Homo sapiens: one gene and its partners. The protein of the gene in region 1 purifies or fractionates together with the protein of each later gene. This does not show direct contact. Each region holds a gene or a part of one and is shown in the gene's direction. Other genes may lie near its edges. The genes, in order: RNF168, POC1A, DHX15, RPRD1B, MKI67, NUB1 and DENND10.

What was found.
Region 2: the proteins of RNF168 (region 1) and POC1A fractionate together in Homo sapiens (co-fractionation; one large-scale study listed by BioGRID). This does not show direct contact.
Region 3: the proteins of RNF168 (region 1) and DHX15 purify together in Homo sapiens (affinity purification with mass spectrometry, with the first as the bait; one study listed by BioGRID). This does not show direct contact.
Region 4: the proteins of RNF168 (region 1) and RPRD1B purify together in Homo sapiens (affinity purification with mass spectrometry; one large-scale study listed by BioGRID and IntAct). This does not show direct contact.
Region 5: the proteins of RNF168 (region 1) and MKI67 purify together in Homo sapiens (affinity purification with mass spectrometry, with the first as the bait; one study listed by BioGRID). This does not show direct contact.
Region 6: the proteins of RNF168 (region 1) and NUB1 purify together in Homo sapiens (affinity purification with mass spectrometry; one large-scale study listed by BioGRID and IntAct). This does not show direct contact.
Region 7: the proteins of RNF168 (region 1) and DENND10 purify together in Homo sapiens (affinity purification with mass spectrometry; one large-scale study listed by BioGRID and IntAct). This does not show direct contact.

What each region holds. Positions count from the first base shown.
Region 1 is NC_000003.12:196,490,269-196,493,768, reverse strand, and holds part of RNF168 (E3 ubiquitin-protein ligase RNF168), read left to right. Parts: intron 1-3,500. UniProt on the Homo sapiens protein: E3 ubiquitin-protein ligase required for accumulation of repair proteins to sites of DNA damage. Acts with UBE2N/UBC13 to amplify the RNF8-dependent histone ubiquitination.
Region 2 is NC_000003.12:52,098,924-52,102,423, reverse strand, and holds part of POC1A (POC1 centriolar protein homolog A), read left to right. Parts: intron 1-3,500.
Region 3 is NC_000004.12:24,557,055-24,560,554, reverse strand, and holds part of DHX15 (ATP-dependent RNA helicase DHX15), read left to right. Parts: intron 1-3,500.
Region 4 is NC_000020.11:38,036,746-38,040,245, forward strand, and holds part of RPRD1B (regulation of nuclear pre-mRNA domain-containing protein 1B), read left to right. Parts: intron 1-713; exon of another isoform or gene 714-1,362; intron 1,363-3,500. UniProt on the Homo sapiens protein: Interacts with phosphorylated C-terminal heptapeptide repeat domain (CTD) of the largest RNA polymerase II subunit POLR2A, and participates in dephosphorylation of the CTD by RPAP2. Transcriptional regulator which enhances expression of CCND1.
Region 5 is NC_000010.11:128,109,424-128,112,923, reverse strand, and holds part of MKI67 (proliferation marker protein Ki-67), read left to right. Parts: intron 1-478; coding exon 479-791; intron 792-878; coding exon 879-997; intron 998-1,107; coding exon 1,108-1,279; intron 1,280-2,390; coding exon 2,391-2,546; exon of another isoform or gene 2,547-2,977; coding exon of another isoform or gene 2,978-3,071; intron 3,072-3,500. UniProt on the Homo sapiens protein: Protein that associates with the surface of mitotic chromosomes and acts both as a chromosome repellent during early mitosis and chromosome attractant during late mitosis.
Region 6 is NC_000007.14:151,372,812-151,375,880, forward strand, and holds part of NUB1 (NEDD8 ultimate buster 1), read left to right. Parts: exon of another isoform or gene 1-1,285; coding exon 1,286-1,432; exon of another isoform or gene 1,433-3,036; coding exon 3,037-3,069. UniProt on the Homo sapiens protein: Specific down-regulator of the NEDD8 conjugation system. Recruits NEDD8, UBD, and their conjugates to the proteasome for degradation. Isoform 1 promotes the degradation of NEDD8 more efficiently than isoform 2.
Region 7 is NC_000010.11:119,114,113-119,117,612, forward strand, and holds part of DENND10 (DENN domain-containing protein 10), read left to right. Parts: intron 1-3,406; coding exon 3,407-3,500. UniProt on the Homo sapiens protein: Guanine nucleotide exchange factor (GEF) regulating homeostasis of late endocytic pathway, including endosomal positioning, maturation and secretion, possibly through activating Rab proteins such as RAB27A and RAB27B.

The sequences.
Region 1 (3,500 bases):
ATCACCTGAGGTCAGGAGTTCAAGACCAGCCTGGCCAACATGGTAAAACCCCCGTCTCTACTAAAATTACAAAAAATTAGCTGGGCGTGGTGGGACATGCCTGTAATCCCAGCTACTCAGGAGGCTGAGGCAGGAGAATTGCTTGAACCCGGGAGGTGGAGGCTGCAGTTACCTGAGATTGCGCCATTGTACTCCAGCCTGGGCAACAAGAGCGAAACTCCGTCAAAGAAGAAAAAGAAATAGCAAATGGACTGGATGCAGTGGCTCACACCTGTTATCCCAGTGCTTCAGGAGGCTAGGGCAGGAGAATCGCTTCAGCCAAGGGGTTGGAGGCTGCAGTGAGCTATGATCCCGCCACTGAACTCCAGCCTGGGCAAGAGTGAGATCTTGTTTCCAAAAACAAAAGAAAAAGGCAAATGAAGACAATTTTAACTTGTGTCTGCAGTTGAATAACTCACTGATCTTAATTTAGATTCAGTTTATGTAGAAATAAGTAAACTTTAAAAATCTGTCATTCCACGGTTTAACAAAAGTTCAGCTCTCTGCTTGCTGTAGTTGGGCATCTTCTGTAAATCGCACGTGCCTTTCCTTTGCCTGTTGTGGTTTTTAATTGATCTGTGGAAGTTCTAGTTATATTCTGGACACTAATTCTCTGGTGATTTATGTATTTGCAAATAACTTCTAGTTTGTTTTTAACTTTGTGATGTCTTTCATCACATGGAAGTTTTAATTGTTTTGGAATTTATCTCATATGTTCTTCTTAGTCGTTTATAGTTTTGTTTTTTTCCATTTTTTAATCCACCTTGAATTCGAGTATTGTATGAGGTAGGCATCTTAACTCCCCCTGCCCTTGATTGCCACTTAATAGCCACACTACTTGGTAGTAATACAGCCACATTGATATACGTACTATTTCACTAATCATATGCTTATTTTCCAGAGCAATTTGGGGCTATTTATTTATTTTATTTATTTATTTATTTATTTATTTGAGATGGAGTCTCTCTCTGTCACCCAGGCTGGAGTGCAATGGTGCGATCTTGGCTCACTGCAACCTCTGCCTCTCGGGTTCAAGCGATTCTCCTGTCTCAGCCTCTTGAGTAGCTGGGATTACAGGCGTGCACCACCACACGTGGCTAATTTTTGTATTTTTAGTAGACATAGGGTTATTTGCCTTGTTGGCCAGGCTGGTTTTGAACTCCTGACCTCAAGTGATCCGCCTGCCTCCACCTCCCAAAGTGCCGGGATTACAGGCATGAGCCATGGCACCTTGCCTGGGCTTTTTATTTTTTAACTATCTCTTTATCAGTAGCTGTGTCAGTACCACACATGCTTAGTTTAATTCTGCTTAATGATATGTTTTGCTTTCTAGTATAATACATCTGTCTTATTATTGTTTTCCTAAATTAGCTACTTAAAAAAAATTTTTTTGAACAAAGATGGGGTCTTGCTATGTTGCCCAGGCTGGTCTTGATAGCCTGAGCTCAAGTGGTCCTCCTGCCTCAGCCTTCCAAAGTGCTGGGATTACAGGCATGAGCCACTGTGCCCAGCCTCTTAGCTACTATTTTATTGTATCTAATGTGTAAAGTGATTTACTTTTTTTCCAGTTTTATTGTAAAAGATACATAACATAAAATCCGCCATGTTAACCATTTTTAAATGGACAGTTGCGTGACATGAAGTACATTCATGTTTTTGTGCAGCCGTCACCACCATTCATCTCTGAACTTTCTCATCTTCCACGCTTGAAACTGCCCATTAAACAATAATTAATTCCCCATTCACCCCTCCCCTGGCTGCTGGCGACCTCCATTCTTTCTGCCTCTACGGGTTTAATTGCTCTAGGTGTCTCGTACGAGTGGAACCCCACACAGTGTCTGTCCTTTGGTGACTGGCTGTTTCACGCAGCGTAGTGTCTTGAAGGTCCATCGTGTTCTAGCACGTGTCCATTCCATTTCCTTTTTTGGCCGCATACTCCATTATGTGTGTGTATATATCTTAATGGATGACTATTATAAAAAAAAAACCAAGTGTTGGCTGTCCTCTGAAGCGGTATCTCCGTACTCAGGATTTGCACTTCCCTAATGACTAGTAATGTTGAACATGTGTTTTTGTTTGTTTGTGAGACGGAGCCTCCCTCTGTCGCCCAGGCTGGAGTGCAGTGGCGTGATCTCGGCTCACTGCAAGCTCCGCCTCCCGGGTTCAAGCAATTCTTCTGTGTCAGCCTCTCGAGTAGTTGGAATTACAGGTGCCTGCCACCACTCCCGGCTTTTTGTATTTTTTGGTAGAGACGGGTTTCACCGTGTTGGTCAGGCTGGTCTCAAACTCTTGACCTCAAGTGATCCACCTGCCTCGGCCTCCCAAAATGCTGTGATTACAGGCATGAGCCACTGTGCCCGGCCTACTGTCAGTTGTTTTATTTGGGTTTTTTGTTTGTTTCTTTGTTTGTTTGTTTTGAGACGGAATCTCCCTCTGTCGTCCAGGCTGGAGTGTAGTGGTGCAATGTCGGCTCACTGCAGCCTCCGCCTCCCGGGTTCAAGCTATTCTACTGCCTCAGCCTCCCGAGTAGCTGAGACTACAGGTGCGTGCCACCACGCCTGGCTAATTTTTGTATTCTTAGTATAGACGGGGTTTCACCATATTGGCCAGGCTGGTCTCGAACTCCTGACCTCATGATCCGCCTGCCTCAGCCTCCCAAAGTGCTGGGATTACAGGCGTGAGCCACCGCTCCCAGCTTACTTTAATTTTTTAAATGAAAATAGTTTGACTCTGCAGTTTCCCTGAAAAAAAGTCTCAGATACCTCCAGGGTTTCGTAGATTCTACTTTAAGACTTGCTGATCTAGGTCTCAGTTTAAGCCAGCTGATTATCCTTCTACTTTTTAAGGAGCCTTATATATGTCTCTCCTGTGTATACCATTGTATTGTCTTGAATAGATCCTCCTTAGTGACTAAAATAAATGAGAATTCAGCATACTGCATCCCTAATTGTTTTGGAGTTACATCACTGTTTTTTAGTCTCTCTGTTGCAGATTTTTCAAACTGCTGGCCTGCAGGCCATAGGAATCCTGTGTGCATGTTTTTTGTGACCCATCCAATGCCACTATTTAAGTTGGAAGATTTCATATTAACATCTTGATTGCTGGATTTTCTTTTTTTTTTTCTTTTTACTTGGATAAATTTATGGGGTGCAAGGGTAATTTTGTTACATGTATAGATTGCACAGTGGCGAAGTCAGGGCTCTTTAGGGTATCTGCTACCCAAATAATGTACATTGTACCCATGAAGTCATCTCTCACCATCCACCCCTGCCGCCTCTGGATTTTCTTGAGAAAGCAAAAAATATGGCACGGACAGGCCTGAGTTTCCTGGTAGTCGTAGTCAGCTGGAGTTGAGTAGCAGCTGCCCCTTGAAACAGACAGATGCGTTCTCTTTTTTGGATGTTCCCTTTTTACACTTTATAAAACAGTGTCTTGTTTTATAGAATAAAATTCTCATCAGA
Region 2 (3,500 bases), about 140 Mb from region 1:
ATAAGCAAAGGAATTATGGAGCCACCAGAAGCTGAAAGAGGGAAGGCAGCATTCTCCCTTAGTGCCTCCAGAGGAAATGTGGCCCTGCCTTGATTCAGACTTCCAGAACTGTGAGAGAATTAATTTAGATTGTTTTACGCCATCAAATGTGACAATTTGTTACAGCAGCCCTAGGAAACTATTAATAATATATACTTCATGTTGTTTTGGTGCTATTGAAAAGATAATGGCCAAGAATTTTCAAAAAATAATGAAAGGCATCAAACCATAGTTCCAAGAAGCTCAGAGAAACAGCAAACAAGCTGGAGAAAAACAAAACAAAACAAAATCCTAGATGAGTTATATTCAAACTTCTGAAAACCAAGGATTAAGAAAGAAATCTTGAAGGTAGCCAGAGAAAAAAAGACATATATATGTGGATCAAATGTAAGAATTATGAAGAATTCTCGTGAAACTATACAAACTGAAAGAGTAACATCTTTAAAGTTTGAAAGAAAAACTGCCAACCCAAAGTTCTGTACTTAGCAAAAATATTTTAGCAATGATGGGGAAATAAGACCTTTTTTTCCCCTCCAGAAAAACCAAAGCTGACAATTTTTTACCAGCAAATTTGTATTATAAGAAATATCTAATTTCTCTCTCTTCTCCTTCTAGGATTCCAATTGTCCATGTGTTAGAGACAGTATTGTCTTGTAGCTTATGGAAGCTCTGTTCTGTTTTATCCCTCTGTGTTTCAGTTTGAGGAATTGATCTATCTTTAAGATCACTAATTTATTTTCCCATTGAGCCCATTATAGCCATACTTCTCTGTTACTGGGTTTCTTATTTCTGTTGTTTCCATTTGACTCTTTCTTATAATTTCTGCCTTTCTGCTGAAATTCTCCATTTGATCATGTGTGTTATTCAGTAGAGCCTTTACCATATTAATCATAGTTATTTTAAATTTTGTATCTCATAGTTTCAACATCTAGGTCATCTGAGTCTGCTTCTACTGACTGCTTTGTCTCTTGACAGTGGGGTTTTTTTTTCTCCCTGCCTTTTTGTGTCTCATAATGTTTTATTAAATGCCAGGCATCATGCTTAGGACAGTAAAGACTGAGGTAAATAGTCTTATCAGGAGTTGAGCTTAGTTTAGTGTTACCTAACGTACCTAGGATGAGGTCTGGTTGATGGAGGATTTTCTCAGTCATTTTCCTCACTCTCACCTTTCAGCCAGCCCTGTGGGCATGCCCCTCAGAGGGGCATGCTTTTTTCCATGTTCTTGGCCCTCCTCCCTAGATAGGCTGCTGTTGCTTATTGCTTGGTGCTTGATATTTTTTTTTTTTTTTTTTTTGCTGAGGGTTGGGGTGGGCCCTGTTGTCTTGACCCAGCTTCAGTCTTAAGCAGACTCTGTCTCCCTGGGTCTCAAAAGTGAGACATTCTTAGCGGTCCTGCTCCTTCCTCATTCAAAGGAGACCTTGATAATCTCAGCTCAGGATAGTTTCCTGCCTCTCCCTCAAGGGAAGAGGTGTTTTTATATTTGCTTTTCCCTAGTAGTTTCAGGATGCTCTTCTACAGGGGAGAGGTCCTGGCAGGGCTTCATACCTTTCCTTACTCACTCTCCTCTCCTAGGCCTGCACCTCCAAGAACGGTTTTCTTCCATCTACTGTTCTGCCCCCATTTTTTTTTGTCATGAAAGCCCAGTGGAGGTCTGTGGAGGAGAACCTGTGCATGGGTGCAAGCTCTACTTGTGTCTGTGGCACCTGGGGGTTCTGCACTCTTACCCTAGTCTGCGCTTGGTCTCCAGCAGTTTGTTAAAACTGTAACTTACCCACTCGTATGGTATTTGGCGTCTCTTCTCCTCATGCTTTGCCATAGGTGACCCACAGCTGATGCTCACTTTCTATTTTCCTTGGAAGTGTCTGTCTTTCCTTAGATTTCAGGCTACTGGTTGCTCTGTGACTTCAGCTCTCTGATTTAAGAGAAGTTATGATTCTTTTAGATTGTCAGTCTTTTTCTTGTTAGGAAGGAATTAACACTTTCCCCAGCTTTATATATCCTAGGCAGCAGCTCCTTATCCATACTTGTATCTTGATGGAAGAGGGAGATCACGGTCAATTCAGAGACCTCTCAAGAAGTCAACTCCAGATGGGTTGATTTCTTGTCACAAGGAAGATCTACAAGCTGTTTCTTTTGTTTTTAATGAAATGTTATGGTTTGGTTCCTCATGTGTCTGGGTAGCTGAGTATCAGCCACAGACATTTAGGCAATTCCTACTGTGTGTGAAGTGATGAGCTCCTGGTGGTGTATGAAAAGCAGGCAGCAGAGGAAACAGGAACTGAGGTGGGCAACACATTAACCAACTGTGAGAGGCCAGAGTCCCACCCCAGGGTGGCATGAGAGGAGACACCTGCAGACCCCAAGTGATATTTCCCAAAGTTAGAGCCATCTCTTGAGAGTCACCTTTTTTTGTTTTGGTATTAAGATGTTTATATTTGGCAAAAGTGAAATGTTGTTGAATTGGTGTAGGCCTATACGAGTATATGTGTGGATTAATCTTTGTTGTTATTTTAGTGAGCATTACTTTTTCTTTTGAGACGGAGTCTTGCTCTGTTGCCCAGGCTGGAGTGCAGTGGTGTGATCTCAGCTCATTGCAACCTCCACCTCCTGGGTTCAAGTGATTCTCCTGCCTCAGCCTCCCGAGTAGCTGGGATTACAGGTGCCTACCACCATGCCTGGCTGATTTTTGTATTTTTAGTAGAGATAGGGTTTCACCATATTGGCCAGGCTTGTCTTGAACTCCTGTCCTCAAGTGATCCACCTGCCTTGGCCTCCCAAAGTGGTTGGGTTACAGGTGTAAGTCACCGTGTCTGGCCTCTTTGTGTTATTTTATTCATGTTATACTTAACTGAGAACCACCAGGCAAAACCCCTAGGACTCTTTGATGTTGAACAGACAAAATGCTGATGTGACTTTTGCATTTAAATGCTGCTTGGGTTATTCTGCCACTGTCATTACTCATGGCTCTGGTACGACTGTCTCTTCCCACTCTTGTGTGTCATTTTCTTATCTCTGCTTTCTTGCTTATTTGCCCAGCTCTCAGGGAAATGCCACAGCTCCAGAGTGCTGGCATGCAGGTGAGTGGCTACAGAGCTGTGAGGGGTGGGGCTGCTGGCCCTTTGCTGCAGTGCAGACATTGGGGAGGATTCATTACACAGGAATTTTACCTCGGTGGGCCCTGCTCTTTGAGGTGTTGAGTGTTTGTGGAGGGCCTGCTCTGAGTTCAGCTCTGTGCTGGGCAATCATTCCAGGGCAGCTGGGTTGGGGAAGTGACGCAAAAAGCATTAGACCTAGGATTCAGAGGCCTCCATGGGGACGTTGGAGAGGAACTGTGCACATGGAAGCCCAGCTGCAGTCAATGTCACCTGCCAGAGGCTGTCTCATGTCCGGGAAGAGCCTGCACTTTGGGTTCAGATCCCAATTCTGTTATTTGCTGGGTAACTTAGAACAAGTTACTTAAC
Region 3 (3,500 bases), on another chromosome or scaffold:
TTTTGCTCAGTTTGTCATACATTTCTTTGCTTTATGACACTTCATGCTACATAGAGACTTGAATTTTGTACACGTATTGAATTAACCACTTTTATGATGTCCAGGTTTTGCATCATACCCTGCCCAGTGTTGGTTTAAATAATTTAATCCATGTATTTTACTATTTTGTTTTTGTTTTAAACATTTAACCAAGCTGGAATTTTACTGGGGAGGGATCATAAGCTTTGAGGTAGGGATTTCTGGTTTTCATTTTATAAAAATGATTTTTTGCCTTTCTTAGGCTTAGTTTGTAATTTTTTGGAATGTTTCATAAAATATATATACATATATATAAATACAAAAATATAAATAAGTAATATATTTGCAGGATGTAATGTTTTACCATGGTTTGTTCAAATCAGAATTAGTGATGTGTTAGGTGTCGTCATCTTGCTGAGATCATAGTTGGCAGTTGGCTTGTAGTTATACTACGCCATCTACATGTGCCTGTTGCAAAAAAATACTTAAGCTAGGTTGATACTGTTCAGTACATGGGGTTTTTGGTATATTTTATTAAGCAGTCACAGTTGAAAAGCTGAACTGTTACTTACTCCAAGGATGTTTTTGCTACTTTAGACATCTTTAGGTAATCTGCTTCTTGTTTAATTTGATTAATTTAGACTAGTGTTTCTTAAACTTTAGCAATCATCAGAATCACTTGAAAACTTGTTAGAGCAGATTGCTATGCCTCACCTTCAAAATTTCTGATTAAGTAGATCTGAGATGAGACTCAAGTTTTGTAGTTCTTACTAGTTCCAAGGTGATGCTAATAAATTTTTAAGAGCATCTCTGCCCTAAAACAGTTGGAAAACACTGTAGATAGTAAGGCACCCAGTAAAGTGTGGAGTTTGGCTATCCTGTGGCACTTTTATTAATTCATCATTGAAACTTCAAACTTAAAATTTTACTATTGTGACTCATTCCTTAGCCTGGATAAATATTTCATTACTACTAAGAAAGTTAGTAAAACTTGACTCTTACATAAAGGAAAATGGACTGTAGTTTTTATCTCCAGTGCCTGATTCTGCCTTTCCTGAGTTCTGTGTCAAGTTAGTTTTTTGTTGTTAAGCAAAGGGTTTCATACATTTAACAGTATAGCAAATCGTCAAGTACTGTTTCTTTTTTTTTTTTTTTTTTTTTAGTGGCTTAAAATTGACAAATTCATTCTCTCACAATTCTGAAGGTCAGAAGTTCAAAAACAGTATGTTGGCAGGTTAGTTCCAACTGGAGGCTCTAAGTGGCAATAGTCTTTCATGATTCTCTCCTAGCTTTTGGTGGTGGCTAACAGTCCTTAGCATTCCTTGGCTTGTAGCTTTGTAACCACAGTCTCTGCCTTCATCTTCACGTGGCTTTCCTTTTGTGTTCAAATCTCCCTCTCTTTACATTTTGTAAGGATACTGGTCATTGGATTTAGGGCCCACTCTTAAATTCAGGGCGATCTTGTCTGAAATTTATAACTTAATTACTTCTGCAAAGACCCTATTTCTGAGTAATGTCACGTTGATAGGTACCAGAGGTTAGGACCTGGGCATATCTTTCGAATAGCTTTTTGCTATGAAATTTGTACGTACAATGGGTTCCTTTATCTGGGACTTTGTGAAGAGTGTGTTAATGTAGGAGAGACTTAGGACTGGGAATCAGTACAGTGATACCTAGTCTTAGTAACTGGTTTTGAGAGTCTGGAAAAGTTGACTACGGTTTTTTTCGTTTTCTTCACTGGAAAAGAAGTAAATTTGACTATATCCTTGAGACCTTTGAAATTTTGAAATTTCATTTTTCTTGAAATTATTCATTGTACAAACAGCAGTATCCCATATTAACTGGTGATGCAAGAAGTAATTAAGTGCAGCACCTCATGGAATGGGATCACTGGGTGATGATCAGTATTGAGGAACCATTGGGAATTGTCTGGATGATAGAAGTTTTGGCCATTTAACTAAGTACTTGCAATATGCATAGTTAATAAAGCACAATAAAATATTTCCATTAATCTAATTTATAATATTTATAGTCTGCCATCTGTAACATTTCTTCCCTTAGAAAAATAAAAAGGAATGTCTGTTGGTTAGCTCTGCTCCATATTGTGATTGATTAAAGCTTGAGGAATGTGAGGAGAAAAAAGATCAAAATAAAGAAGGTGACTTTTAAAACTAGTTTTAAGAAGTTTTCAACTTAAAGTCATATTTTATCATTTCTGTGACTTTTTTCTCAAGTTTTTATTGTCTGAAGTTACAATGTGTCTCACAATCTACTGAGGTCTTGTAGTTGGTGGCAGTTTGGTTATTATTGCCTGTGAATGCTTGAACTCGATCTAGCTGTACATATTTTCACCTCAAATAATGTGAATTGTTGGGTCTGTATATACTGAGAGTATTTGCTAATTTAAATGCCTTCAGAAATATTAAATATTACACTATGATTCCATGTTGAAATGAGCACTGAGTATCAAGAGGCTGGGAAATGGAGCAATAGGGTGTAAATATGCTAGTATTTGAGCAAATGTTGGAAGAGTAACCAATCCTTTTTTTTTTTTTTTGCCTTGCAAATCAACAGACCGCTCTATTGAAGCTAAGAGAGGTAACTCACAAATAGAGGAAGCTGTATGTTATGTTCTGCTACTGAGATCATGTACAAGAGTATTGCCTCTCTCGTGTCTGTGATATATCGGAAGACAGGAAAAATTACCAAACGTCCTCAGATCAAAGAAATTTCAAAGCAGCTAAGGGCTATAGTGTTGCTGATTCTTGCACTATGCTTTACTGTCTTTAAGGCACTGAGTCATAATTTAATTGGCAGTGTTTTTTCTTTCCTGGTCTTACATAAAATAACCTTATAGCTAATGCTGTTTGTCCCTCCCAGGAATGTGGTAGTTTATTTTTAAAAATATGACCAAGGACAAGAAGCATAAAGCATATAAATGAGTTAAGATGGATTTGTTTGCCAATAGTTTATGAAATTTAGAATTAAGTTTAGGTGAAATAAAGAGAATTCACTTCTTTTTGTTGTACACTATCAATTTGCTGAACTTAATGCTCCAGCAGATGGCATGAGCTAAAAATATCCAGTTGGTCCATGAAAGATTAGGTTAGACTAATCATAAAAAGAGCCAAAATGGTGAATTCATAAATGATGGCTTCAGATTTTTTAATACCACTTTTAAATCCGTAAATAAAATAATGGGTTTTTATCTAACTGGATGAGCTGTGACTTAAGCATCTAAAGGCATCCTGTGTTTTGTCCAGGTGCCAAAAGGAAGATAGTTGTTTTTCATAGTGACATCAGTAACCAGTGTGGAATGGACAGGAGATAGCTGACCCCTGCAAAGTTATACAATCTTGACCCTTGATCTCATTGCCTTCATTCTTACGTGGCGCCTGTCTTGTGATAACTGGAGTCCATATTAGCAGCCTTCACTTGAGCCATCCCTAACTAAGCCTGGTTTCCCTTTTTGGTTCATTGAT
Region 4 (3,500 bases), on another chromosome or scaffold:
ATCTGTGCCATCCAACAGGTAGCCGCTTGGTATATGTGGCTATGGAGCACTTAAAATGTGTGACTAAGGAACTAAAGTTTTAAGTAGATAGAATTGAAAATTTAGTTTCCAGTTTTTACCAGCTGCAATTCAGGTGTTCCAATAGCCACACGTGGCTAGTGGCTAACTTACTGGACAGTGCAGAGTTAAAAAAAGATGCTCTTCCAAGCATCAATACCTAGCTTCCGAATATCCAGGCTTATTTCATGAACTGAAAATGCCCCCACACTGAAAGAAAAGGATTCTGTGCCCTAATGTTCAGATTGATTAGCCCTGTAGGTTCTACCTAGGGTGAAGTCATTTTCCGTAGCTGAGATGCTCACAGACTGTCTCTGAGTTGCCTTCAAAATATATGAGATTTATAAAAATTAACTTTTTTTCTTGCTTAAATACTTCTATTCCTGATGTGTTGTCTTTCCATTTTCTAGGAATAATTTTTAATTTATCCCATTTGAGCTCTGTTCTAAGTAGAACGTCTCCCCTTCTTTATGGACTAGTTTTGGTGTAAAGTGCTCCTAAATGAATGTTTTTAATGGTGTTTTGTATCTTGGCCTGAATGTAGGTAATGGGCTTTTATTGCAGAATTACTTTAAGACTTTCTGTAGATGTCAAAACCAGCCAAACAAGTGAAAAGTTTTGATTAACCAGTTGTTTAAATTTTACTCAACAACTAGTTTGACCAGTTTGGAATGGACATGGGTAGTGAGTGAAAGGACCTATTTCTGTCGTATAGGAAGGACATCTGAACAAGTGAGTTGTCCCCCAGGATTGGGATGGAGGGGTGTGCATGTTGTGTGTATTGTGACTGTGTGTGCTCAAGAGCTCTAGGGTTTTGTCATATCACCTTGACACACATGGTGCTTATGTTGACTGTTGAGGATGTTGAATATGGAGGGATACAGTTTATCCTAAATAAATCCCCATTGTTAAGTTCTGGGGTGATGAAAATTAATTGGCATTGTAAACAGTGAAAACCTTGGGTCTCAAGCCCCTTAGATACCTTGTTTGTCTACTGAGAAGTATATATCAGGTCTTGAATGTCCACACTGACATTTTACAATATGGATTCTAGGTTTTTTTTTTTTCAACATAAAGTGTATGGAATTTTAAAGCTTCACTTAATGAAATTTGCTTTGTTGAAGTTCTGTTTTGCTTTCGAATCTGCTAACTTGCATGGGATTATAGGTGTAGTAGTTTCACTTACATCAACTTTGCAGAGCAAGGTTTGCTTTAACAAAAAAGCACGTTTTGCCATAATCATACCTTTGTAGCAACAGTAGATATTGTAACTACTGACACTTTTGTTCTGCTTTTGAATAATAATTAGAAAGTTGAAGAAAGCTCCAGGTTCCTAGTATTCTTATCAGTTGGCCATCTAAACTAGGTTATTACCAGAAGGTTAAGACAATTCAGGGTATCCATATTTAATTTTATGAGCATTTAAGACATCAGTTTCATCAGTTTAAACTGTAATGTGCTATTAAAATCATGTTTTTAACTTGGGTTACTCTCCTGTAGCTACATTTTTTTTTTTTTTTTTGAGACGGAGTCTCTTACTCTGTCACCCAGGTGGGAGTGCAGTTGGCGCGATCTCGGCTCACTGCAACCTCCGCCTCCCAGGTTCAAGTGATTCGCCTGCCTCAGCCTCCCAAGTAGCTGGGTTTACAGGCGCCTGGCACCACGCCCGGCTGATTTTTTTTGTTTTGTTTTTTTTTTTTTTTTTTTTTTTTGAGACAGAGTCTTGCTCTGTCACCCAGACTGGAGTGCAGTGGTGTGATCTCGGCTCACTGCAAGCTCCGCCTCCTGGGCTCACCCCATTGTCCTGCCTCAGCCTCCTGAGTAGCTGGGACTACAGGCGCCCGCCACCACGCCTGGCTAATTTTTTGTATTTTTAGTAGAGACAAGGTTTCACCATGTTAGCCAGGATGGCCTTGATCTCGTGACCTCAGGTGATCCACCTGCCTTGGCCTCCCGGAGTGCTGGGATTACAGGCGTGAGCCACTGTGCCCAGCCTCCTGTAGCTACATTTTAAAATGTCAGATCTTATGCCTGCTATGTCAGACATATCAATGCTTTGTACATTTCAAAAGAAACAACTGGTTTCAGAGAGAAATAGAGTTACTCAGGTGTGTTAAGGTTGATAAAGAGCTTGTGTTTTTCAGGTACTTTAGCATTGGAGAAAACTTTGTGTTTTGAAACATCTAATTATGTTCTTATTTATTTCTTTTAAAAGAAAATTGGAACCAAAAATTGTAGGGATGTAACTTTATAGTTGAGAAATTATGTGCATAGAAGCCAGGGAATTCAGTAATGTTCCCCAAAGCAACTGTAACTCAGACATATTGCACGAGGTTTTTATGGTTTAATATATGATACCATATAGAGTAATAGGGAATAACCACATTTCATATAAATAAGAGAGAATTATGGTTTTTGTGAAAGCCCTAATTTTGCATATCTAGATTTCACACGTGTGTAAATTTTCAATAAGAGTGTAGTGTTAATGTATACTTGTATTTGAGCTAATATCTATTGGTGCACCTAGAGATTCTTCTATATTATTGATTATGGTTATTGGAGTATCAGAGAAATTCTCAGTTTAGGAGCAAAATTACAAGAAACCTTTTTTTTTTTTTTGAGACGGAGTTTTGCTCTTGTTGCCCAGGCTGGAGTGCAACAGCATGATCTAGGCTCACCACAACCTCTACCTCCCGGATTCAAGCGATTCTCCCACCTCAGCCTCCTGAGTAACTGGGATTACAGGCATGTGCCACCACGCCAGGCAAATTTTGTATTTTTAGTAGAGACGGGGTTTCTCCACGTTGGTCAGGCTGGTCTCAAACTCCCGACCTCAGGTGATCCGTCCATCTCGGCCTCCAAAAGTGCTGGGATGACAGGCATGAGCCACCACGCTCGGCGAAACCATTTTAAAATTGAAACCTAACTCAGTCTTTTTTTTTTTTTTTTGAGACAGAGTCTTGCTCTATTGCCCAAGCTGGAGTACAGTAGTGCAATCTCGGCTCACTGCAACCTCCACCTCCTGGGTTCAAGCGATTCTCCTGCCTCAGCCTCCTGAGTAGCTGGGACTACAGGTGCCCACCATCACACCCGGCTAATTTTTGTATCTTTAGTAGAGGTAGGGTTTCACCATGTTGGCCAGGCTGGTCTCAAACTCCTGACCTCAAATGATCCACCCACCTCGTCCTCCCAGAGTGCTGAGATTACAGGCATGAGCCACTGCGTCCGGCCAACTCAGTCTTTCATTCTGAAATATTTGATAATTAAAAGTGAGTTAGAAGTTGCTCATTTTTGCAGTAGAATAAATAAAAGCCCTAGTTTCAACATTAACACTGACTGCTTATCCTTTAGGAATTCTCTTTGGATTATCTTAATTTTTACTATCAATTAATTACCCTGGTTTAAACAACACAGCAATGAAGATGGCCCATTCTTTTTCTTTT
Region 5 (3,500 bases), on another chromosome or scaffold:
CACACCTCTGGGAAGTCATGGCCCTATAGCTCATAACCTTTGTAATAGGGCCTGGGCGGTCTTTCTTTCCTTCTCTTCCCAGCAGGAGTGGAAAGTGATGTCTGGCTCCCTTTCCATTTTACACTGGCTCCCAGGGGCAAGCAGTCCTCCCTCCATGTGGACTGCCGGGGGCTGGGTGCTCACAGCTGGTATTTACTGGGACTGAGATCAGACCCTGCTTGTCTTTCACTGATCAGGATGTTCCTTCCACCTTTTTACCTGAAATGACCTCACTTCAGACTTGGCTTGCTTCTCTTTCCTTTTCCTTAAATGACTGAGACAGTCTCACCTCTACCATAGTCTTCAAAGACAGTGGCTTAAGCATTTGATGCTTCAAGATTTAAACAGCTGAAATTCTTAACTGAATAGGTTTTTATCAGTCATTCCAGAGATGTTAGATCCTTGTTAAGGCTTCTTGTAAACAATTTTGTCTTGTCAGGAACAGCCTCAACCATCAGGAAAACAAGAGTCAGGTTCAGAAATCCATGTGGAAGTGAAGGCACAAAGCTTGGTTATAAGCCCTCCAGCTCCTAGTCCTAGGAAAACTCCAGTTGCCAGTGATCAACGCCGTAGGTCCTGCAAAACAGCCCCTGCTTCCAGCAGCAAATCTCAGACAGAGGTTCCTAAGAGAGGAGGGAGAAAGAGTGGCAACCTGCCTTCAAAGAGAGTGTCTATCAGCCGAAGTCAACATGATATTTTACAGATGATATGTTCCAAAAGAAGAAGTGGTGCTTCGGAAGCAAATCTGATTGGTTAGTCTGACATTAGAATACATATATTAAGGTGAATTTTTTCATGAATGCTAATTTTTGAAAAGTTTCGTCTTTTCCCTTTGACAGTTGCAAAATCATGGGCAGATGTAGTAAAACTTGGTGCAAAACAAACACAAACTAAAGTCATAAAACATGGTCCTCAAAGGTCAATGAACAAAAGGCAAAGAAGACCTGCTACTCCAAAGGTAGGGGCCTCACTGAATGGCTGCTTTACACATACCGGTGTCATCGAAGCTTGCATTCAGTGTGGATTTATGCTTTAATGTCCTGTTTACCTCCTTCCTGTTTTCTACAGAAGCCTGTGGGCGAAGTTCACAGTCAATTTAGTACAGGCCACGCAAACTCTCCTTGTACCATAATAATAGGGAAAGCTCATACTGAAAAAGTACATGTGCCTGCTCGACCCTACAGAGTGCTCAACAACTTCATTTCCAACCAAAAAATGGACTTTAAGGAAGATCTTTCAGGTAAAAACGTAGTCTTAGATCTTATAAATCTTTTGACTCTACTGTTTTTTACTGTGTTAATGTTTGTTTTGCTAACTTTGTTTATCTGCTGTGAAAGAGATTATAAAATAAACGACTCAATCACCCTTCTGGGGTCTTAGTGTTCAGGGAAGATAAAGCTGTTTTGGCTTGCAAAGACAAGTCTCTGCTAATTTTTGGGATCACATGTCCTGCATGAAATAGGTGTGGAAATGTCAAATGCATGTCTTTACCCTGGAGAGCAGCGTATACATAGAAAGCTGGAAGGTGCTTTACAGTGAAGAGAGTTAACTTGTTAATCTGCAGGTACAATAATAGTTTATCCCAGGTGTGGGCCAGTTGTTGTTGAGCAACATTTTGCTTCTTCAGGATTGACTTTCTAGGTAGCTTAACTTTCTTGAAAGAAAGCCCTATGAGAAGATTCCCATAAACGATTGTTGAAGAAATATTTCCATTCAATTCCCACTCTCAGTAAATTGTGGCCTGACTTGTGTAATTTAAAGTGGGGATGGCCGGCGCAGTGGCTCACGCCTGTAATCCCAACACTTTGGGAGGCTGAGGCCTCCTATCATTCCAAACAGAATGATAATGATATTAGATTTTCAAAAATATATATTATTACTTGACAGTACTAAAAATGGGCAGCTCTTTGTCATTTTCTAAAATGTGGGTACGTGTTATTTGTACTTAAAATCTAGAACTGAGCACCCAAGACTTTGAGAAGCATGAAGGCATTTGGCCTCTAGATCCTAGCAGGGAGGCCTATGGGTCTCAGGAGCCCGTCACCAGCCTCCGTGCTCCAGAGCTCACGTGTGGGGTCTTGTTAGGAGGACCCAGAGGTCAGCTAACTTCATTTGTTTCCTTTCCAAGAAAAGCAAAGCGAAGAGCATAACATATCTTCTCTGTGCTCTCTTTTTTACAAAATGAGTACATTATTAATGGAATCACTCTTTTTATGAGGCCTATGTACCAGGATTTCAAGGGAGGAATCTACTGTTATTTCCCACCATTTGCACGTTACATGTGAGGGCTGGGATGGTTGTCTGCATGTTAGCAATATGTCAATCACTTTTCAAATATTTTCATTTAACAGGAATAGCTGAAATGTTCAAGACCCCAGTGAAGGAGCAACCGCAGTTGACAAGCACATGTCACATCGCTATTTCAAATTCAGAGAATTTGCTTGGAAAACAGTTTCAAGGAACTGATTCAGGAGAAGAACCTCTGCTCCCCACCTCAGAGAGTTTTGGTTGGTTTCCTTGTTTCCTAACACTGTGATGTTTTGGGATAGGAACATACAGTATTATTTTTTTACAAGCAGTATGATATTACTTCTCTAAAACAAATGTTCCTGGCACAAAATACCATTTCCGTCTTCTCTGTTCTAATTGAAAGGGAGATTTCAATCAGCAGTTGAACTAACATTGGCATTCATTGACTTATATAGAAAGAAAGACTCCGTTAATGTGTGTAAATGACCTGTGTACACTTTTGGCTTCTTTATTGTAAGTAACCAGGGTGACATAGCAAAAAAATACAATGGTGTCTCACCATATTTACATATAAATTACTCATATTCAAAATTACTGCCAATTACAAAACAGAAAGATAACAGTTTGTATACTGTGCAATTATTCCTGCTAACCTTTTAGGTGGGAGCAGGCCCGGGGTAAGTGTGAGATGGGAGATGAGAATCTGTCTAATCTCTCATTTGGCACTGGTCACTGTATTCCTGTCACAGAGGGAACAGCTTGCTACCCTGAAGATGTTTGCGGTAGGTAAATATTTCCTGTGTAATATGGACCCTAACCACATAAGGATAATCCATGTTATTTTATTGGCGATTTAAGGCAAGAAACAGCTGTTTGTTTCTAATGTTTGAAGGAAAAAATGCCTATATTTACGTCAATGACACAGGGCATGGCAACCTTTGGAGGAACCTTCTGAAGCAGTATTTTTACCTTCTATGATCATTTCAGCATCTAACTTTGCTTAATGATGACCCCACTATAGCACCAAATAACATTATTCTTAATTGTGCATGGCTCTTATAAGACAGATTTATAGACACATAAGTAGCCTCATGTCGTTCAGTGAATACGAAGCTAAATATTTAGTTTTTTACCATATTTTATGAGGCTGTAATACTCGATTGACATGAGACACTAATAGAATGTTTTTATTGTGTATGTTTTTATTTCAG
Region 6 (3,069 bases), on another chromosome or scaffold:
CCACTGAGAGGTAGAGCACGTAATGGGGGCATGAGACAGGCCTGGTGCAGCTGAAGGGGAAGCAAAGGGAGCTGGCGCTGTGGGCACTCCAGGGCCACACCAGGAGGTTCTCCTGTGATAGAGACAGGCCATGAGTCTACAGATGTCTTCATCCCTGGAGATGTTTCCAGCAGCCACTCTGTTCTGCCTGCTCCTACTGTGGGGCCTGTGGAGTCTGGTTCCACAATGATGATGCTTTTGTTTTCCTAAGAGATGAGGCCGCTTTCCTGCTGTGGGGAAAATGCAGGGAGGCGCCTGTTGCCTGGGCTGGGCAGGAGGCAGGATCAGGTCTCTGGAAGGAAGGAGTCTGTTTTCTCCCCCGTCCTCGCTGCTGCTGATGGTGGGGCTGGTCTCCCTGGGAGAATGTAGCAAGTCACTTAACTTTGTTGAAAGCTTTCTGTCTCCTTGTTGGGAAAATAATGAGGTTGGATTAAATTCCTGGTTTTCAAACTTGCTTTGTTGTTGTTGTTTTTAAGCAGCAAAATCCCCTTTTTAAATGACATTTTTATGGGGATACTAGTTTACAAAATAAATTGGGAACTCTCCTGATTGGCCCTGGGTGGGAGAGGTGAAGAGACTAGAACCCTCTGCAGCCGTCCTGCGCTCCTGCAGCAATAGCAGGCAACTCTGAGAAACAGGGTTGAGAACCAAGAGGTTAGATGACCTTTGTCTCTGGGCACTCTGTGGGTTCCGAATGGAATGACAGGCCTCAGAAGGCCCTGGAGTCCTTGCTCCCCAGGCTGTGGGGGGCGGGTCACCAGCTTTGGCATTGCCCAGGAGCCCCTGATTCCACATCACATTTTAACTTGAATCCCTGGGCGATTCATCGAAGGCTGGAAGGCCTTCCCACCGCGTGCAGAAGCTCTCCTACCCGGTTCCTACCTGGTTCCTAGAAGAGAATCCATGCACCTCACACCCGCGACCTCTGCAGTGGGAGTGCTGGGTTGGCGAGCAGCCCATCCTGATGCCGGATGGTGGATGGCGGGGCTGGCGAGGCACCTCCTTCCTGCCCCACGGGCATCTCACTTCCACTGCCTGCCTCAGAAGCAGCACTTCCACCACCCCTCTGCCTCTGTGGCACCTCTGCCATTTGGCTGGGTGAGGAGAGGTAGAAAGAGGGCCCCCTGTGCTTTGCTTTGGTTTTTTGGCTTTGCCTGGAAATGCGGAGAATCCTGCAGAGCGCAGACTGAGAGGCTGTGAAATCTCAGTCCCTAACTTGGGATGGGACTTTGCTGTTTTCCTAAAGGAACTGGCCCAAATAAGGAAGGAGGAAAAAGAGAAGAAAAGACGCCGCCTCGAGAACATCAGGTTTCTGAAAGGGATGGGCTACTCCACGCACGCGGCCCAGCAGGTACTCCACGCAGCCAGCGGGAACTTGGATGAGGCCCTGAAGGTAGCAGCTCCCTCGGGGCCTCTGGCCTTGTCCCTGAGCAGTGGGTCCTGCCCAGAGCTCCCTCCATGGCTCTCCAGCATCCTCCCGGGCTCACTCCTATGGGCTGCCCCGTCATCCGGATCTGAAGGGCAGGTTTCTCCTGGGCTCCAGCCCAGACACAGGCTGCGTGAGGCCACGTGAGGCCCCATGCTCAGTGCTTGGCCCAGGCCTGGCTCCAAAACGTGGTGCCTGTCCACACCAGCACAGTCCACAGGCCAGGACTTTGTGTAGGGTTTCTGTGTGCAGCAGAGTTTAGTGAAACAGGCAGTTTCCACGGCAGAAAAAAGAGAATGGGAATTCAACTTGTAGTATAATTGTTTGGCATTAAAATTTTAAATGTAAGTATCTAGTTTTATTTATTTAGTCCATCGTACATGTTGGCAAAGGGAGAGCTTTTCAAAGAACCCCTCAGGAGTGACAGCAGGTTGGGATCCAGACAGCAGTGACTTTACCTGGGCCACTTCCTTCCCTGTGTTGGAGAAGCATATCGAATCCTCAGTAGGGCAGGTGCTGCGCTGCGTCTCAGCAGCTTGGCATGGAACCACCCTCTGCCCTCTCGGCCCCGCAGGTCAGTGAGAGACAAACTCAGAGCACACGTGGTGAGGGGTCCCGAGGGGGTGCACAGGAGGCAGGGGGCTGGCTGTGTGGAGGCAGCAGTCCAGACAGATGCTGGGGCAGCGCGGCGGGCAGGAAGCAGAGTGGTAGGAGCTGGCTTAGGTTGTGCACGTGCTGGGGGCGGGGCTGGGGGGACAGAGATGGGGTTGGAGGGGGTGGGGTGCAGGGCAGGTGTCCTCGTTTGCCCTGCTGAGGCGGGTGTGGGTGCAGCAGGCACGGGGAGTCCACCCTGCCTTTGCCTCTTATCCCTGCCCTGTTCCCCGGAAGGCTCCACAAGTCAGTACTTTTGTAACTATGTACATGTATATTTAACATATACGTTAAATTTTAAATTTTTATTTGAATATCATCTAGTTCGTTTTTTTGTGTGTTGGAGAAATATTAAGAGGTGGGAAATTCTGAATATTCGAAGGGACTGATGGGTCTCAAAATAGATGTGAATTATACGAGTGGCACAAAAATACTTCCAGTCAAAATGGAAGTACTGAGTGTTGGAAAGGAAAGTCTCCACAGGGTCTTTGAAGATTAAGTATTGTGTGATGAAGAAATCAAGGGTCAAAATAACCCTACTACCTGCCTGACATTTTAAGTCTAGAGGGCATGACGCTTTCAAAGATCAATCAGGCAGCCCTGAGCTGCTTGAGACCTTTCTGTCTGTAGCTCTGACAAAACCTGTTTTCTTGGATGCTGCTTCCACCTGCTCTCCATCCCTTCCTGCTCTAACAGAAGGGATCTTTTCCCTGACTAGTCTTGCTCCTCCTTCAAACCCCAGCTGTCCTGGTCTCTGGCTGGAAGCCTTCTGTGAACACCAGCCTGAGTGGGAGCCCCTTTCTCTGCCTCATAGCAGCAGAGGACGGCGGGGTCTGCCTAGCACATGGCAGGGTGCAGCGCCTGTCTGAATGTGTGAAGAGTTCTTAGTGATGGGTAAAGGGTGTTCCTGTGTGTTTTAGATTCTGCTCAGCAATCCTCAGATGTGGTGGTTA
Region 7 (3,500 bases), on another chromosome or scaffold:
CAGTGCGTGGCATTGTAGTATCCTGGATTTCTTCTCCCGTCACAGTGCAAGAGAAGTGAGGACTCGGAGCTACTGCCAGCCGCCTCCTCTGCTTCCTGCCCCTTCATGCAGCACTATGCTCACTCTTGCATGTATGCACATCCAAGTATTTGCACACACACACACACACACACACACAGGTCTGTGTGTACATGCACACACTCATAGGCAAAGACTTCTTTTCTTCATGACAGTTTAACATGGAGTTGCCTCCCTCCATTTCTGGTGAGGAGCAGGCAGGCGTGCCTTCCACACACAGCTTGCTGCTCACAGTGGCAGCAGAAGCCCGCAGGAGGGAACCTCATTCCCTATGTGGCTGCAGGTTCACTGCTGTGGTCCTCTTCAGCCTCTAGTCGCTTGCTGCTAGTGGCCCTGCTAGAGAACCGGGGTTTCATGCACACTTGCAGTCAGCTGTACAGGCCTCGATGTGTGGCAGCCTATGGATGTCTATCTGAACAAGGTGCTTGGGGTCGCACTGTGGGCTTTTCCTGTGGAGTGGTTTTGGGGGGATTTCCCCCTCTGTTTTATCTCTCCTGGCCCAGGGTTGTCATGTAGGAAGTCATCTTATCCTACCAACCTTATGTTTCTCTTCTCTATTACTGTGTATTGTTTCTATTTTATAATTTTTTTTTTTTTGAGATAGAGTTTCACTCTGTCACCCAGGCTGGAATGCAGTGGCGCCACCTCGGCTCACTACCACCTCCAACTCATGGGTTTAAGTGATTCTTGTGCTGCAGCCTCCCAAGTAGTGGGAATTACAGGTGCACACCACCACACCTGGCTAATTTTTATATTTTTAGTAGAGACGGGGTTTCACCATGTTCACCAGGCTTGTCTGGAACTCCTGGCCTAAAGTGAGCCTCTTGCCTCGGCCTCCTAGAGTGTAGAGATTATAAGCATGAGCCACAGTGCTTGGCCTCTATTTTAGAAAGCTAATGGCATTTTGGTTTTTTGTTGTTGGTAGTAATAAAGCACATTTAGAAACACAGGAGAATATGCAGTGAAAACTGAGCTGCCGCCTCCTCCTGTTCCCAGACTCCAGTTCTACCTCCTGATCCCCACCCCACACAACTCCCGTGACCTCCTTCTTTATATCCTATCAGAGAAGTTTTTCTCCCTGTGTGAGCCTGTGTGTGAGTTCCTGGGTTTGAATGTATTTTACATGTGTGAAAGCTCACCACATTCATTGTTCTCTACTTTTTTTCCGTCAAGTTGTGAATTGAATTGGTAATTTTTTTTTTTTTTTTTTTTTTTGAGACGGAGTCTCGCTCTGTCGCCCAGGCTGGAGTGCAGTGGCGGGATCTCGGCTCACTGCAAGCTCCGCCTCCCGGGTTCACGCCATTCTCCTGCCTCAGCCTCCCAAGTAGCTGGGACGACAGGCGCCCGCCACTACGCCCGGCTAATTTTTTTTGTATTTTTAGTAGAGACGGGGTTTCACCGTTTTAGCCGGGATGGTCTCGATCTCCTGACCTCGTGATCCGCCCGCCTCGGCCTCCCAAAGTGCTGGAATTGGTAATTTTTAAAAAAACACTGATGATTGACAAAAGTTGGCAAGCAGTTAAAACACTTGCTTTTTTCATTTAGTCTATGATAAATATAATTTTCAAGTGATCTTTTTTTTTTTTTTTTTGAGACGGAATCTCGCTCTGTTGCCCAGGCTGGAGTGCAGTGGTGTGATCTTGACTCACTGCAACCTCCTCTTCCTGGGTTCAAGCAATTCTTCTGCCTCAGCCTCCCAAGTAGCTGGGATTACAGGTGTGAGCCACCAGGCCCAGCTAATTTTTATATTTTTAGTAGAGACAGCGTTTCACCGTGTTGCCCGGGCTGGTCTCTAACTCCTGGCCTCAAGTGATCCGCCCACCTTGGCCTCCCAAAGTGCCGTGATTACAGGCATGAGTCACTGTGCCCGGCCCTCAAGTGATCTGTCTTAAATATGTTTTATTTTCTTCCCGATTTTCTATCCCACCAGCTCCTGAAAGGCCCAAATAGACCCAGTCATGTTTCTCAAGCAAAATTTAATTTTAGTTGCTCACAGGAAGAGATTTCAAGGGGAAGAGACGGATTCCACATGTGAGCTATAAATGCAGCCAGTTTCCTGTCAGCATTTTCTAGAAGCTTTAACTTGACGATGAATGTCTAATGTGCATTTATCACCAGAAACCTAAAGGAGTTTTGATTTCTTAATTATCTAAATATAGCTACCTCTGGGAACTCATTTAATAATAAGTATGGGTTCTACAACTAATTACTGGTTTCTCTGTGAACAGTGCGTAAAACTCCTTTCTCGTCAAAGGAAATCTCAGTGATAAAACAGAGTTGTATGACTGAGAACCCCAGTTGTGAATGTAAGACACAGGATAAGTGCACAACATTCTTGAGAATCCTGGGACCTCAGGAAGTTCGTACTTCATTCTCCTGCCTTAGTACAACAAGGGGCTCCCAGATGTAAGGAGATGGCTGAGTCCAAAGAATTGTTGAAGGTCTCTCAAGCTTTTTCTTTTCTTTCTTTCTTTCTTTTTTTTTTTTTTTTTTTTTGAGACAGAATCTTGCTCTGTTGACCAGGCTGGAATGCAGTGGTGCAATCTCGGCTCATTGTAACCTCTGCCTCCCTGGTTCAAGCGACAATCCTGCCTCAGCCTCCTGAGTAGCTGGGATTACAGGCATGTACTGCCACACCTGGCTAATTTTTTTTTTTTTTTGGTATTTTTAGTAGAGGTGAGGTTTTGCCATGTTGGCCAGGCTGGTCTCCAACTTCTGACCTCAGGTGATTCGCCTGCTTTGCCCTCCCAAAGTGCTAGGATTACAGGCATGAGCCACTGCGCCCGGCTGCTTTTTCTTTGAAATATATTTTTAATTTAGAGAGAAATGATGCTACTTGAAAGTAATACTACTTTCTACATGAAAAGATTCAAGCATTCAGGCCAAGCGCAGTAACTCAGCAGTAAGTGCAGTAAGTGCAGCTGTAATCCCAGCACTTTAGGAGGCTGAGGTGGGCGGATTACCTGAGGTCAGGAGTTTGAGACCAGCCTGGCCAACATGGTGAGACCCCGACTCTACTAAAATTACAAAACTTAGCAGGGTGTGGTGGTGCACACCTGTAATCCCAGGTACTCGGGAGGCTGAGGCAGGAAAAACACTTGAACCCAGGAGGTGGAGGTTTCAGTGAGCCAAGATTGCACCGTTGCACTCCAGCCCGGGCGACAGAGTGAGACTCTGTCTCAAAAAAAACAGAAGAGTGAAGCATTCAGAAGGGCAGTAGCAAGGTGGCCTCGGATTCTTGAGAAGGCACCCATACCAGCCTGGGTGCACATCTGTACATGATTTGTGCCAAATGAAATCACAGTTGCTTTGTTGTCCTTTCTTACAGAATGTACCTGAAACATGGGAGCCCAGTTAAAATGATGGAGAGTTATATTGCAGTTCTCACAAAGGGGATATGCCAGAGTGAAGAAAACGGCTCT